2 separate regions of the Homo sapiens genome follow, and region 1 is linked to region 2. Evidence: fine-mapped expression QTL. Tissue or cell type: whole blood. Region 2 holds a variant in brackets; the other region holds the start of a gene. All regions are shown on one strand. Distances are between the middles of the regions.

Region 1 (8,164 bases), 44 kb before region 2:
TCATCCTTTTTTATGGCTGCATGGTATTCCACAGTGTATATGTACCACATTTTCTTTGTCAAATCAACTGTTGATGGACACTTAGTTTGGTTCAATGACTTTGCTATTGGAGCGCTGGTTTTGAAGCCCGAGGGATGCCGGCTCCTGGCTCCTCTGCTCACTGCTGTGCTACATCAAGCAAGTGGCCTCATCACCGGAGCTTGTTTCCTCTGCAGAGAGGACTAAGAACCCTCTGAGTTCTGCCCCCTTCTAGCTGTGTGACCTGGGCAGCTCTTTTCCATCTCTGAGCTTCAGCTTCCTCTCCTGCAAAATGGGAATTGACTTGTGTTAATGACCATGCCGCCATGCTGGGACAAGGATCACTCAGAGGGTGTAGCGTGGGGCCCACTATGCGGCTGGCACTTTGTAACCAGCAACTGAAAAATGATGCTTTTTCAGGTAAAGATCTGTTGGAAATTGAAGGTTTCGTAGTCAGGGTTTGTAGAAAAGCACAGCCTTCCTGCAGCCATTTTAAAACCGAGCTTTGCAGTGTGACTGCAGATACTCGGCTCTTGAGTTGTGAGGAGGAGGCTGGGCAAACACCCTGAAGGAAGGGGTCATTTCACGCAGGTATCTGCAGTGGGCATACCCCCTAGCCTGGCACAGCAGCTCAGTGTGCACCCTTTTTACAACATGCACCTGATTGCCTGTTATTGCATGGGGCAGGGCCTGCCAGGGCATGCCCCCAGGGAGCAATGCCAGGGAGCCCGGCCAGGGCACTCCCACTACCAACTGCCCCGGGAGGCTCTGCTGACGCTGCATAATCAAGAGAGACAGCCCCACCCAGAGGCCCCTGCAGCCCATGTATGGGTACTGGTGCTAAAGGAGGGTGGCACAGTCTGTGCAATTCTGGATGTGATTGGTAGAGATGTGTATGTGTGTGAAAGTCAAATCCAGGAGCTGCTGTGACTGGAGGCTGCTGCCCGGGCCGGAAGATGTCCCCACCCCATGCTCTGCCCCACAGGCTCTATGGCAGCCGTTAGTGTCTGCGGGTTCTGGTTCTGAGACCCCACCCGTTCCTCTGCAGCCCTGGTGTCCTGCCGCCTTGGCGCCTGGGCAGAGCTGTCCTCTCTAACTTTAAGGGACACTGCTTAGAAGATGAGGCTTGGATATGGGCACACGTAGGTTCACATCCCAACTCCTCTTAGCAGCTGCAGAGACTTAGGCATGTGACTTTACCTGTCTGAGGCTTGGTGTCCTCGTTTGGAAAATGGGGATGCTAGAACCTATCTCCTTGGATGTGGTATGACTATAATATTTGGAGAAGGAAGAGATTCACATTCCATCCCTGTGGTTATAAAGTCTCCTGTGCGGCAGGTGCTGAGTCCAACAGTCCCTTCCCTTCCCTTGTTGCTGTTAGACATAGTGCCTGGATCCCAGGCCCCTAATACATGCAGACAGCATTTCCACAGTGTCCCGGCCAGCCCTGCTTGGGAGCTAGTGGGAAGAGGTGAGATTGGGAGAGGCAACAAAAATGGGAGGCCCACATCCCAGGAGATCAGCTTGGTACACAAGCTGCAAAGACAGGGGAGCACCTCTGCAGTCCTCTCAGGGTCAGTAGAGGCAGGACCAATCAGACTCATAAACCTCAAACCATAAATCACCCCCATGGCTTCATGTGGGTTGTAGGGGCTCAGTGGATGATTGTACTGGAAGGTATACTTTAGAAGACATGTGACTCAGGAAGCCCCTCCTCAACTGCCTGGCAGGAAATATATGGTTTCTATTTGCACACCTCCTGGGACAGGGATCTCCCTCTCTCCCAAAGCCACCCTTCCACCTTCGTGGACTAGCTTTGTCCTCCTTCTCTAGTGTGGTGCCCAGAGCCAAAGCGACTTCTGGAATGGTCTAACCAACATGCACTGGAGCAGCAAGCCCCTCCTTTGTCCTAAAGACTATATTTCTGTTAATGCATCCCTATTTTGCTCATTTGCTTATTTTTCCCTGCACATATTACTATTCATCACACCAGGGTCTAGGGCTACTAATGGCAAAAACTCATTCTCTCACAGCTCTTTCTCTCCTCTCCCTTCTTATTACCTTTCTCCATTCCTTCTTTCTTCCCTCTCTCCTTCTTTTCTGTTTTTCTCTCAGCTCAGGGCAATGCATCTCTGCAGTCAATTTATGCAAATGTGTATTGAGCACCTGTGTCTGCCAGCCCTGTTCTGGGCACTGGGGTTTCCTAGATGATTACAGCCTTCTTCCTGCCTGCAGGAGCATCCTGTCTGGCAGTGGAGAGGACGCAAAGGTAACAGCTACAACACCTGTCTTGAGGGTGTAATTGAGGGGACAGCACAAAGTGCAGAGGGATCTCAGATGGGTGAGCAACTGCTGTATGTGCCCAAATATAAGGTAATCCAAGTAAAGATTACAGGCAATCCCCATTCTCCCTATGAGAAGATGCACTTTCTTATTGAATAATATAAACTTAATGGGGTGAAGATGAAATAGACATCTACTTGAAATATTTCATTTATTACTTTAGTTATATAAACATATTTGCAATTATTCTCATAGAGAATACTAATATGGAAAGATTGCTTTTGGCAGTTTCAAATTTCAGGAAACAATTTGATTCTAATTCTTTTCTGTGTGGCTTTGACACTAGTGTCACCATCGTGTGTGTTGGGGGCAGCTTTTTACTAGAGCAGGTCCTACTCTCAGAGATCCAGAGGCTAACACACAGCCCTTTCGAATCCACATGTCAGGCAACTGCTGGGCACAGTGTCTCCACCGCAGGTCCAATCCGCATCACATTTTGACAGTAGGGATTCATTTGCTGCAGGTGAGTATTTGTGATCTGCACAACATGGCCACTTACTGAGGTACTCTGAAAGTGGCCTTTAAAAGGCCTGTTCACAACCTCTCACCCTTGCCGTCACAAAGTCATATTTGTTTGCATTGCCTTATCTGAGGAAAATTCCCTCAATTCCCTTTATAATATTGCTGACCTCCATATGCAACCCAATGTCACATAGATTAAAGGAGGATCAGCCAGGTGAGGTGGCTTAGGCCTGTAATCCCAGCACTTTGGGAGGCTGAGGTGGGGGAACCGCTTGAGGTCAGAAGTTTGAGACCAGCCTGGCCAACATGATGAAATCCCATCTCTACTAAAAATACAAAAATTAGCGGGGCGTGGTAGTGGGTGCCTGTAATCCCAGCTACTCAAGAGGCTGAGGCAGGAGAATTGCTTGAACTTGGTAGGCAGAGGTTGCAGTGAGCCAAGATTGTGCCATTCCACTCCAGCCTGGGTGACAGAGTGAGACTCTGTCTCAAAAAAAAAAAGAAAAAAAAAAAGGATCACGCTAACGGACCTTTCTCAAACAGAACTTTGGGGTTAAAAATTAAGTCACTGGGCGAGCACCTGTAATATGAGAAATTAGTAACTCAAATGCAAGGCAATCTTATGTTCAGACATATGACGTCAGGGGGGAGTGGGGAATCAAGGTTTCCCGGAAGTGGAAGCTTGGAGCTGGCCTTAAAGACCCTAGAACCCTCTGGGATGGGTCATGTACTGTAAGCAGAAGGCACCGGAGATGCAGAAGGCTGTCTCCTGAATACCCCGCTTTTATTCGCATAGCTTCAGGCTAGCTTTGCCCTGTACCATTGGAAGATCTTGGGCACCTCTCTTCCACTCTCAGAGCCTCAATTTCCCTATCTGTGAAATGGAAGTAATAATACATATTTCATAAAGTCTCAAGGGATACAAGAGCATGAAAAATAGAATTGAAAAAAACAGCTCATTTGGAATCGGGTCTTCTTGGGGAAGTCATTGCACTTCCTGGGCCTCAGCGTTCCAGCCTGTGAAATGGAGCTCGAGAAGGGCACAGCTGCACTTCCCACTGAGTGTGGTCCAGGTGCCTGAATGAGGAATGCCTGTTACTGCCTCTGCCAGGAACACTCTACCTATCTCTTCTCATGGCCGACGCCTTCTAGTCCATCAGATGGAGCTTATGTGCCCCCACCCCAGATTCTCCCTATGCCCCCAAACAATGTCATCTCCTCACTCTACTGGGATCTGTTTTATTTTCTTCCTGGCTTTGATTATTATATAATGTGATCGTAATTGCTTGTTATTTCTATCTTCAGCATGCCATCTCCAGGGCAGTGGGGACCTTGTCTGTATCTACCCGGCCCAGCACAGTGCCTGGTGCATAGACTGTGCTCAATAAATATTTTAGTGAATGAGCGAATAAATTAATGAATGTGGGTTCCCTCTTCCCAATCTTTGGACACTGGGTTTCTTCTATTCCTCGGTACCTGGCCTAGGGGATAGAAAAGACTCCACCCAAACCCGGGAACCCTGGGTGTACTGTCTCCAAGCCCTTTACATGGTCCCAGGGGCCCGTCTGCCTCTGTGTAAGTTCCCCCGGGGCCGAAGCACTCTCCAAAGAGGTCTGCCGGGGCTAGGACTCGGCCGGCTGGGGCCCCGCGCCTGGAAGAGGGCCTGGCACACAGTGGGCCTTCTCAAAGTGTTAGAACAAATGGGTGACAGGCCAGCAGACTGCCGATCCTGGCACCCGAGGGCACCCAGCTGCCCTGCGCGCCTTCCCGGCCCGGGCGCGGGAGCGGCGAGGGCGGGAGGCTTGGCTGTGCTTCTCCCGCCGCCTGGTGCAAACTTTCAAAAGATGCGGCGGCCGCGGCCCCGCCCCTGCACTGTTGGAGGCGGTGGGAGGCGGGGGCGGAGCCGGCGGGCCCGGGCCGGTGGCTCCGCCTCCTCCTCCCGCAGGCGCCGCCGCCGCCTCCCTCCCGGCTCCCGCCCCAGCTGCCGCCCGCCGGCTCGCCCGTGCAGCTGCGATGCCCCGGAGCGTCGACCCCGGTCCTGGTCCCTGGCCCGCCGCGTAATTAGCCTCCGCGCGCCCAGAGCGCGCCGCCGCCAACGCCGCGCCCGACGCAGCGATGGGCAACACGGTGCACCGGACCCTGCCAGGTACGCCGGGGAGCCCTGCCCGGGAGGCGGGCGCCGGGCTTCTCTCCTCCGGGGGACCCGCTGGGTGACTCTGGAGAGCTACCCCACGGCCCTTGGAGCCCTCGGCTCGCAGCGGGCTGGAGTCTCCGGTACCTCCCGGACCTCAGCTCGGCGCGCGCCCCGCGGCTGGGCTTTGCGCCCCGGGAGGGCGGGTACCGCGTCCTGGTTACCTTGGGGACCCCAGTCCTCATTCTCCCGGCTTTGGCCAGATGCGCAAAAAGGGCCGCTGGGGCGATGCCGCGCGCCCCCTCGCCTTTGTTCCAGCCCGAGGGCGCTGATGAGCAAACTCAAGGCGACCTGGGTGGGGGTGACTGGAGCCGGGCTCGCCAGGGCTTCCGACGGTCAGAAGCCACCCGTGGTGCCAAGACTGCAGCTGCCGAGAGTGAGGGGTGCTCTCAGGGGCACCCCAGTTTCCAGCCTCCCAGCGCCCCCGCGGCACATGCTGCCGTGCTTTGGCCACGTTCCCACGCGCACCCCGGTTGCGCCCCCCTCTGGTGTCCGCTCCACTGGGGACTCCTTCGCCCCCTCGGAGTCGCTGCTGCAGATCGCATCGCCCCCTAGTTAAAATCGCCCCAGAATTTCTGGGACCGGAGTGAGGGGATCCGGAGCAGGTTAACGGGGTAGGAGGAGGCCTTACTGGAAAATACATGGTAATTGTGGGAACAGATCAGCGGTCCCGCGCCCGCGCGTGCCCGTGGAGGTTCAGTGCCCAGCACTTTGCATACCCCAGCTCGGTATGCAAAGAAGCTTCGCGATAAAGATGTGTATCCCAGTTTTACAAATAAAAAAATTGAGTGTCAGAAGAGGTGAAATGACTCACCCAAGGTCACACAGCTAGTAGTGGGAGAATCTGGAGTGGGACCTGTGTCTCTCTGCCCTCCCTCCCCTCACACGCCCAAGTATTTAGAAGTATTTTGTCTTAAGGCTGGGCCTTTGTAGCATCCTTTGGGCAAAAGGTGAGAGGAGTGTGTGTGTGTCTAAAGCACAAAGGCTCGGCTCAATGGGGAAGCAAGTCAGCTGTGAGGTTAATTTAGTGTGAGGTTCTGGAAGAGGGACATATCACCCCATCTCTGCTATAACACTCCCATATAGCTCTCCCTTCTAGGCATTACATGCTCTTAAAGAATAATTTCCCCTGGAGCGGGTTGAAGTGGACAGTGCTGAGCCCAGGATTCCCAGGGTCAGCTTATGGAAGAGGAGCCAACTCCTACTTTACAAGCCTCTGAGCAACTGCACTCAAACGTTCAAATTCCCAGAGAGCTGTAATCATCAGCAGAGTCACCAGCTAGTCAGTGGCAGAGGTGGGATTAGAACCCAGGTCTGCTTACTGGAGGGTGGCCTCTACCTCCTGTGGACAGGGCTATTGCCAGGTTGGGGGAGAACCCACCCGCGGGTCAGGAGATATCTGGGGATGTTGGCAAATAGGGCAGCAGATATTCTCGCCACATAGACACTGGGATGAGGCACCTCGGCACAGGCCCCTTTCCTTGGTTTCTTAATTTAAAAATGTTTATACTATTCTAGTAAAAAGCCATTCTGCCACCTGTGGGTCAGCCCTGGGGTGCGTAAAGGGACAGACACACGCCAGGCAGGCTAAATATAGCTAGAGATTTATGTATTCTCCATCCCTCTCAACTCTCTCTCTGTGGACTGGGCCACCCTAGTCTGGGAGCCGGCAGTTAAGGTTGGTTACCCACTGCAGTGTCTAAGTATGGGGAATTCAGACTCTTCTCTGGGGATTGAAGCTTGCACTGAGTTTGAGGAAGGGGTCAGAACCGGAATTCCTGAGTCACATCGGGTGGCAGATGCCAAGAATATGAAGGGCCGTTAATTGTTTTCCGACCTACCAGTATGAGTTTCTTGCACACCCTGTGCTGTTTTTTGTACCTCTGTGCTTGGCATGTGATGGTCCCCATGCATGGATTGTCCTTTCTTGTCTAGTCTGCCTTTCAAAATCCAGTTGTCGTTACCTCCTCCAGGAAGCTTTCCCTGACCACCCACAGTCTCATCCTTTGCTCTGCTATCTGGATGCCTGAAGTCCTTTCCTGCTCATCGTTGCAATGACTGCATTGTCACTGCCTGTCTCTGTGACTCTTTGCGGTTCCCTGAGGACAGAGCCCTTGTCTTGATCATCTTGTATCCCTGGTTGCCCATCCCAGAGACTGGTGCCTGGCAAGGGCTCAAAAACTGGTGGTGGAGCTCGAATGTTGCCTGAATCTTAGGCTGAAGGAACACTTGGCACAGTCTTGCCCTGTAGAATCCTTGTGCTTTCGTTCTCAGGAAAAGGACACATGCGTGGGGTTCTTTCTGCGGGACTTGAAATAGAGAGCTGGCATTTGCTGAGCACCTGGATTCCATGCCAGGCTTCCTGCATATGTGGCTTCATTTACACGCCAAGCATGCTTCTCCTCAAGGCTTCTGCACTTCCTGATCCCTCTCCCCGGCACATTCTTCTGCCCTCCTCCCCATGGCTCCCACCAGGCTTCCTTGGGGTCTCTGCTTGAACGAGGGGCCTGCTGTTGCCCCAACCCCACTCACTCCTTTGACCCAGCTTTAAGTTTCTCCTTAGCACGTGTCACTATGCGACACGCTGTATGTGTAGTTAGCAGTTTCTTGTCTGTCTCCCCCAGGGAGATTTTGTCTGTTTTATTCACTGCTATACGTTTAGCACCTGGAGCAGTGGCTAGTACAGAGTAAATGTTCAGTAAGTACGTGTTGGATGGGATGAATGGATGAATTTAATTCTTCTAACATCCCTGCAATGTAGGCATTATCATCTCCATATTACAGTTGAGAAGCCGAGGCTCAGAGAGGTAAAGTGGCTTGTCCCAGCTCACACAGTTCACCTAGTTGGCAGAACTGGGATTGCAATTTAGGTTAACTTAGCTCCAAAGTCCTGCATTCTTATTCTGACATGCTGTGGCCTCCCAGCCCGTGATTTAGATAACATTTATTGGGTTCCCCACCATGCACGTGGCATGCTACACTATACAATAAGGAAATGCCAAAGAAAGGGAAGGTTGTTTATGATCGATTGCGGAAGCCTCTTGGCAGCTCTTGCAAAGTGCATCAGCATATTCAGAGAAATGCCCTTTAAACAGAACGTGCAGCACAGGACCTCACATCTACTAAGCTCCTACTGTGTGCTCTACACTC
Region 2 (8,184 bases):
GAGAAAAAGAGAAAACTAGAAAACTATAAGAAGCAAATTTCTACCCAGAGATAACCACTCACATTTTAATGTATTTCTATATTTTTCCTATGAATCCTATGCACACATTTTCCACAAAAGTAGAATCAAACCATGTGTTCAGTTTTGAATGTTTTGTTCATTTGATGTTATATCATAGGTATTTTCCCATATTATTAAATATTAATTGAAAACTCAATTTTTAAAAATATTTTTTCCCATAAAAATTTGTAGCTGTATTAGTCTGTTCTTGAACTGCTATAAAGAACCACCTGAGACTGGATAATTTGTAAAAGAAAGAGGTTTAATTAGCTCTTGGTTCCGCAGGCTGTACAGGAAGCACGGCTGGGGAAGCCTTAGGAAACTTACAATCATGGCAGAAGGTGAAGGGGAAGTAGGCACAGCTTACTCGGCCAGAGAGGGAGGAAGAGTGTGAAGTGGGGGAGGTGCTACACTTCTCAACAACCAGATCTCGTGAGAACTCGCTATCATGAGAAGAGCAAAGGGGAAGTCCACTCCTATGATCCAATCACCTCCAACACTAGGGATTACAATTTGACATGAGATTTGGGTGGACACAAATCCAAACCATATCAGTAGCATACAAGTTTATTGAAGGAAAACTAGATAATACAGAAAAATCTAAAGAAAAGTCCTTCATGATCTCACCCCAAGAGATAATTACTATTAATATTTTGTCTCTCCATCACTTGATTTCCTATGCACATAAATAAAATGATACAGACAGATGTAGACAAATGCACACATATGTACTTTTTTAAAGAAACAAACTGAAACCCCACTTCTTCCCTCGAGCTATGGGAAGCACCCTCGCTAAGGCAAAGCATACACACTCAGATGCCCAGAGTCCAAACAAGTAGCTGACCCCTTTTGCTGAGACCTTGAAGAGGGCCACCTCAGGCACATCAAGAGAGATCAAACCACCTCAATACAAGGGCAAGCTTCTTTAGCCCATTGTGGCCAGGGCAGAATTCAGGTCCTACTGCCAGATTTACTGGTTTCCCAAGTGCTATAAATCCAGTTTAAGTGAAAGGTGTCTGAGGGGGTGCATTTGGACCCACCGGGGCCTGGGGCATAATTCGAAAAAGCATGTGCATTCTTATGATTTCATTTCATATTTGGAAAACTAAAGAGGAAATATTTTTCAAGACACTATAGAATGGTAACATTTAACAAAATCTTGGCTCAAAGTGGTCTGTTTAAAAAGTCTAAAACACTTATTTTCCTATTATGGTAAACAAAAATGTTTGTATCACTAAAAAACACCTTCACAATATTTTAATGACTCTTTCCTGATGTTGTTGTTATTTAGCATAGCAGTCTCTTCTAGACCTTAGTCGTTCCTTCATTCATCCAATAAACTATTAATAGTGAAGGCTATTTGCCAAGCCCTGAGAACATGGTGGTGACCAGACTGACACAGACCCTGCCCTCAAGAGACTCATATTCCAGCTAGGGAGGCAGAAAATAAACAGGTAATCTACTAAAGTACGAATACCTGTATTACCCAAATGATAAACACTATTTTTGCTTTTTTACCTATGTCATATGAAGAACATTTTTTCAAATCACTAAAAAGTACTTTAAAATATTTTCATAACTGTAACTTTTAAAGAACTTTCCCTTCGGCCGGGCGTGCTGACTCACGCCTATAATCCCAGCACTTTGGGAGGCCAAGGTGGGCAGATCACTTGAGGTCAGGAGTTCAGGACCAGCCTGGCCAACATGGCAAAGCTCCGTCTCTACTAAAAATACAAAAATTAAGCCGGGAGTGGTGGCAGGCACCTGTAATCCCAGCTACTCGGGAGGCTGAGGCAGGAGAATCACTTGAACCCAGGAGGCAGAGGTTGCAGTGAGCCGAGATCGCGCCATTGCACTCCAGCCTGGGTGACAAGAGCGGAACTCTATCTCAAAAAAAAAAAATTTCTTTTCCCTTCATTTAGTTTTATCAACTGACTCAATCTCCCGTAGACTTTTTTCTGTCAATGCTTAAACACCTATCCAGGGCCAGGCACTGTGCTCTGTGCTGTGAACACAGCAGTGAGGACAGACCCAGGTCCTCCCTTCTTTCAGAGGCAGCATGTGTTGAAGAGCCCAGACTCTAGAGCCAGACAGCCTGGGTTCAACTCATGGGTTCAAGTCGGGGCTTTGCCACTTAGTAGCCATGTGCCCTTGGTCATGTTCCCCAACCCCTCTGTGCCTCAGTTTCCCTGTGAGCTCAATAGCAGGCAGTAACCGTACATGCCTCACAGAGTGGTTGTGTAAATTAAATGAGGTAGCGCGCGAAAGCTTAGAAGTGCCCGTTGCGTAAGGCCACGAGTACAGGTTTGCTCTTTTTATTGGAGCTTATGTTCTAGTTGGGGAGACGGACAATAAACGATTTTTAGATGCCCTTTTAATGATCAAAGTATGGAAACCTCGGAAAGAGGGAGAGAAGGGGAAAGGGTGGAGAGAAAAGGAGGGATGGAAGAAGAGAAAGGAGGAGGCAGGGGAAAAAGGGCCTTATCTGCCGCTCCCAAAGGTAAGAGCATGTCAAGGAAACCGAGGATGGTGCTTAATGCAATTCTGTGCTCCTGTGACTCACTAAATAACACAGATGGACAAAAGGAGAGTTCGAAGCCGGGGTGGGGTGGGGGCTGCTCGAGGCCCGGGTCGGTCGTGGAGGCCTGCAGGAGGCAGCGGGCGAGGAGGGGCTCGCGACCAGCCTGACGCGCGGCCTCTCCCCCTCCATGTCCCTCCCTTTGTCCGCACAGAGAGCGCCTTCGCTGACACGCTGACGCCCGCGCGCCTCAGCCAGGCCCGCTTCAGCGCCTGCCTGCCGCCCAGCAGCCACGACGCGGCCAACTTCGACAACAACGAGCTCGAGAACAACCAGGTGGTGGCCAAGCTGGGCCACCTGGCGCTGGGCCGCGCCCCGGGCCCACCGCCAGCCGACGCCGCGGCCGCCGCCATTCCGTGCGGGCCCCGTGAGCGCCCGCGGCCCGCGTCGTCGCCGGCGCTACTGGAGGCCGACCTGCGCTTCCACGCAACACGCGGGCCCGACGTGAGCCTGTCGGCCGACCGCAAAGTGGCCTGCGCACCGCGGCCCGACGGCGGCCGCACGCTGGTCTTCTCCGAGCGCCCGCTGCGGCCCGGCGAGAGCCTCTTCGTGGAGGTGGGCCGTCCGGGGCTGGCGGCGCCCGGCGCGCTGGCCTTCGGCATCACGTCGTGCGACCCGGGCGTGCTACGGCCCAACGAGCTGCCCGCCGACCCAGACGCGCTGCTCGACCGCAAAGAGTACTGGGTGGTGGCGCGCGCCGGGCCCGTGCCGAGCGGCGGCGACGCGCTCAGCTTCACGCTGCGGCCCGGCGGCGACGTGCTCCTGGGCATCAACGGGCGTCCGCGCGGCCGCCTGCTGTGCGTCGACACCACGCAGGCGCTCTGGGCCTTCTTCGCCGTGCGCGGCGGCGTCGCGGGCCAGCTGCGTCTCCTCGGTGAGTCCCCGGCCCCGCGTGCGCGAGGCCCCGCCCCTCCCCCGTCCCGTGCCGTCTCACCCCGCTGCGCTCTTCCCCGGCCCCGCCCCTCTCGCTAGGCGCTGCACCGCCCGAGGCCAGCCCGCGGTTCCCAACTTTAAGCGCCCGGGCACGATCCACCCCGTCCAAAATTGCCGGACTCCACCCCAGAGTTCCGGATTCAGTGGGT[G/C]CACGGTGCGCCCCGAGAACGTGCATTTCCGACAAGTGCCCGGAGATGCTGACGTTGCGGCTCTCTGGACCACATTTTGTAAACCACCGACCTAGATAGGTAACCGGCTTATCTCCGAGCTTGGCAGGCTATATCCCCTCGGTAAATGGTCGGTGCGATTTTTAGTTCCGTTGTTACGATTTGTTACATTAGGGTGTTTTTAACATGTAATGCACAGTAAGTGTAGGGAAAAAATAAATTCGACTGCACATGAAAGAGGAAATAAGAATAGTATCGTCCACAGAAAGTGGAATGGAGGCCTGAACCATCCTATTTTGAGATAATTTTTGCCTTCATTCATGCCACAAATAGGCAGGAGCAGCCACCAGCTGTGGGCCGGGCCCTGGGCACCAGGATAGGGCCAGCAGAGGACAGGACACACTCCATGCCGGTTAGGAGCTCACAGACACCCTAAAGGAGAGTTGCACGGTGTGACATTTGCTACAGCCGGGGGCTCCTCTCCCAGCTTGGTGGAGTGAAGGAGATGTTCAGAGAAGGCTTCCCAGAGAGCCTGGCTCCAACTTCATGGCTCAAAAAGTAGAGTCCAAGCAATAAGAAGCAGTCAACAGCTCATATGTTCCCTCATTGAATTTTATCCTCCCTTTGACTCTATTGAAATCAGTATCATTATCCCCACCTACAGATAAGATAATGAGCACAGAGAGATTAAATGACTATCCCAGGGTCACATCGCTGGTCAGCTTTGAAGATGCTGGACAAATCACAGATTCTCCTGAGCCTGTTTCCTTCTGTAGAAAGAGAGTGATACCTGCTTCATGGGGTTGTCATGAGGATGAAATCATGTGCATATAATGCCTTGAGCGGGGCCTGACACTGGTTTAATCAGTGGTAACAGTAACAACAGCAGCTGTTGCTGTCTTCATGAGGGCAGAGGAGGAGCCGGGTGGCAGTGTGGTTATTTGGTCAGAGTGTTTTTTGGGGAGGGGGAAGTTGTGTTGTTTTGTGTTTTTGAGGAACCATCAGACATAGTCATCATTTCAGCCCGAGACGAAGTGCCCATTATCTGTCCATTCATCCTCAGGTAGGGCAAGGGAAGGGGCATCTTTTCATCCTAAGAAACAAGCTGTTATTGTCTGAACCAACAGCAAGCTTGGGGAAGAAAACTCATCCATGTTGAGCACTAGTAGTCAGGGATCTTCTCGCAAGGGGCAAAACCCCACTCAAAGTGCCCTAAGCAAAAAAGGAAATGTCTGGGAGTATATTGGGTGAGTTCAGGAATAGCTGGATCTAGGTACTGGAAGGATATCAGCAGGATCCTACCTCTCTTTCCAACTCAAAGCTCTGCTTGCCTCTGTGTTGGCATCACTCTCAGGCAGGCCTTTGCCACGGGTTGGCTCTTCCAGCTCCAGGCTTCCTTCCCAATGAATGGAATGAGTTCCTTCTTTCCTAGTAGTTCCAGTAAAAGTTGCAGAATTGGGTCTCGGGCCTTACGGGGGTTATGTGCCCTTTCCTGAACCACCACTATTGAGACCAGAGAGTGGAAGTTCCTGTTGGCCTGGCCCTTATCCTATGAGGGAGGGCACATTAGTATCCCAAAAGAACATCCCAGGGCTGTTTCTGAAAGAGAAGAGAATAGAGGCCTGGTAGACAAAGAACAGAGGCACCACACTGGGATGCACTCTTCACTCCTCAGCAGAACCCTGGGAGATACCTCTGGTCCTCTCGTTAGACGGGAAAGCTAAGGTGCAAAGCAGTGAAGAACCATGGACTAGCAGGGCAGGTCCAACCTTCCACTGCCCCTGATGGAATCTCTTTGGGCCTCAGGTACCCTGCAGTCCAGCCCTGCGACCACGACTCCATCAGGGTCCCTCAGCGGCTCCCAGGACGATAGTGATTCAGATATGACCTTCAGTGTCAACCAGTCCTCCTCGGCATCTGAGTCATCCCTGGGTAAGGAAATGCAAACCCTGGCAGGGGCAGGGGCTGGCGGCTGGCCTGGCTCCTCCGGCTGTGCCAGTGGCCTTCCAGGGACTGAGCAGGGTGGCCGCCTTTCCCCCGCATCCTCTCCTTCCCTCAGCTGTATGCTCAGCTGGAGGGAGGAGAAGTGTCTAGATAGGGCATTCCAAAGGGTGACGATGGTGGCATTTTATCTTGGTGTTTGGGAGTAGAAGAGTAGAGAAAGGTGCAAAACCTGCAAGGTAAACTCAAATTAGTATCTCCCAAAAGTATTCTCCCACCGGTCCCAGCAAGAAGCCCTGCATTCTCGGGGTTGCCCCAACAGAGCCCACCTGAGAGAGACATTGTTAACATATGTCCTCTTCTCCCTTTCGGCAGTGACGGCCCCCAGCTCCCCGCTGAGCCCCCCGGTGTCCCCCGTGTTCTCCCCACCGGAGCCGGCAGGCATCAAGAATGGCGAGTGCACGGTGTGCTTCGATGGCGAGGTGGACACGGTCATCTACACGTGTGGACACATGTGCCTGTGCCACAGCTGCGGCCTGCGGCTCAAGCGACAGGCCCGGGCCTGCTGCCCCATCTGCCGGCGGCCCATCAAGGACGTCATTAAGATCTACAGGCCATAGCCTAGCCTGCCCACGGGCCTTGGCCGGTGCAAGGTCACCTTTCTGAAGGCCCCCTGGGCTGGGCAACCACATGGCTGCCAGGGAGTCCACGGGCAGCGGCCATCTCTCCAGTGGTGGGCAAGGTGTGACAGTCGTGGAGCGAGGCCCACAGGGCCTCAGCCCAGGCAGGGGTTGCTTCTGGCTCCAAAGTGCTTTGCCCCCAAAAGGCCGTCCCAAGAGCAAGCTCAGGAACTGCCTGGCAGATCACCCTGTCCCTTGGTGACCTTTCAACTGGGAAACAGCGTCCTCTGTCTGTGCAATGCTTCTTGCTGGGGTTGGGTTGAGTGTGAGAGAAGGGGAGGGGAGGGAGGGAGAACAGAGAGAATGTGTGTGTGAGAGAGAGAGAGAGAGAATGAACGTGTAGCGATTTTACCAGGGGTCCCGGCTCCGGGAGGAGACGTGCAATCCGGAGCCCCGACATTGGCATGACTAGAAGTTGTTCACTTTCTGGGGATGGGACATAAGCTGGTTTTGAATGTATGAAGCTGACCCTCACAGAACTCCCTGGGGTGGTGTAGAAAAGAGATGCTCAGATTTTCTAAGGGGAGGCAAAAATAACTCATTGTTTACAGCTCCAAAGCATGAACTCCTTGAGGGGAAGGTGGGTGAAGAACAATTCACTTCTTCATTTCTTACTGGGTCTTAGAGCTGGGTGTGATGGGCACCGAGGCCAACCCCTCTGGATTGTGTCATCTTTTCACCCCTTCACCCCCAGACTGTCTAATAATACACACATCATACCTTGTCTCCGTCTCTGGAGGCAAGTCTCTGTAATGCCCTTCCCTATCTCCAAGGAGAAGACCAGCAGTAAGTTCTGTTTTTCTGTGGGAGAGAAAGAATCCTAGAGGCAGGTGACCCACCTGGAGCTGGAAAGCCCACTCCACGATGCAGACAGCTCTCTACCTTCCTGTGGTGGCCCCTGGGCCTGGCATTCCCAGGGGACCTGCTGGCAGGAGGAGGAACGAGGGCTTTATAACTTTGGTTATAACTTTTGGTCTTTGTTCTGATTCTCAGTGTATCTTCCTCCGCTGGTTACTAAAGTGTTCACTGATAAGTATGTTAACTAATGATCGAGACAGTAACGAAAAATGCTGGCACTGGGATTCTCTCCCTTCCCAGACCTACCTGCTGGTATTTCCTGGGACCTTGACCCTGCCCCACCCCCTCAGCCGTGCCCATCTCTGCAGACTCCCAGATCACATCTGGGCTGATGGGCTGGCCCAGGCCTGTCCCTCCCTTCTTGCCCCCAGTTCTGGGCTCCACCTCTGCCCTCTTCTGTGCTGTCCCATTAGGGAAGTCCCTTGGCCTGTCTATTTTTCAGTTCCCAATTAGAAGTCTAGAACCTGACAACTCCAGGAGTTCTTGGGAGGACCAGTACAACGTTCTAAAAAGCCTGAGACGCCTTACAAAAAGCAAGTATCATTTGGAGTACAATTCCTAATCTGTTCATGTCCTGCTGAAGGAGGGAAGGAGGGAGAGGAAGGCAGGGGAGTTGATGCATTCATATAACAAACACTGCTGGGTGTCTGGGTGCCCAGAGCAAAGCTGGGCCAGGCCTTCACCAGATCAAGCCCCACAGACCAGCTGGTGCCCATGCGCTGCTGGTGGTTTGGGGCCTCCTGTTCCTCCTCTAGCTGGGAGTAATCACAGTTGTCTGACCTGATTCCAACTTAAGGTCCCCACTCTCTTGCCCCATCAAGAATCCCTGATTATTTACTTTTCCCTAGAAAATCTGGGGAAATTCCCACATTTTAATTTTGCAGCAGAATCTTTTGAGCAGCTTTTGGAACCACAGTGTTTGCCAAGATAAGAGTTTGAGAATCCAGCAGCCCTGGGTGCCTGGCTG

What was found. PIP is the estimated chance that this variant, and not a neighbour inherited with it, causes the effect.
Region 1: NEURL1B starts here. The variant in region 2 is fine-mapped to the expression of NEURL1B in whole blood (TOPMed, PIP above 0.99).

The regions. Positions count from the first base shown.
Region 1 is chr5:172,636,469-172,644,632 of GRCh38, forward strand. NEURL1B (neuralized E3 ubiquitin protein ligase 1B) reads left to right here and starts at 4,795. Exons shown (of 5, transcript NM_001142651.3): 1 at 4,795-4,969. The coding sequence starts at 4,939. LOC107986478 (a long non-coding RNA gene) reads left to right here. Exons shown (of 3, transcript XR_001742996.2): 3 at 1-2,010. RefSeq lists a silencer at 4,557-4,846.
Region 2 is chr5:172,680,627-172,688,810 of GRCh38, forward strand. NEURL1B (neuralized E3 ubiquitin protein ligase 1B) reads left to right here. Exons shown (of 5, transcript NM_001142651.3): 3 at 2,793-3,512; 4 at 5,545-5,670; 5 at 6,055-8,184. The coding sequence ends at 6,299. It overlaps LOC107986479 (a long non-coding RNA gene), which reads right to left. Exons shown (of 3, transcript XR_001742997.1): 3 at 5,679-5,911. Among named protein-coding and RNA genes, the nearest start is that of MIR5003, 23 kb to the left of the region's middle. RefSeq lists enhancers at 2,551-3,051, 3,052-3,552. The variant G/C (reference allele first, on the strand shown) is at 3,721.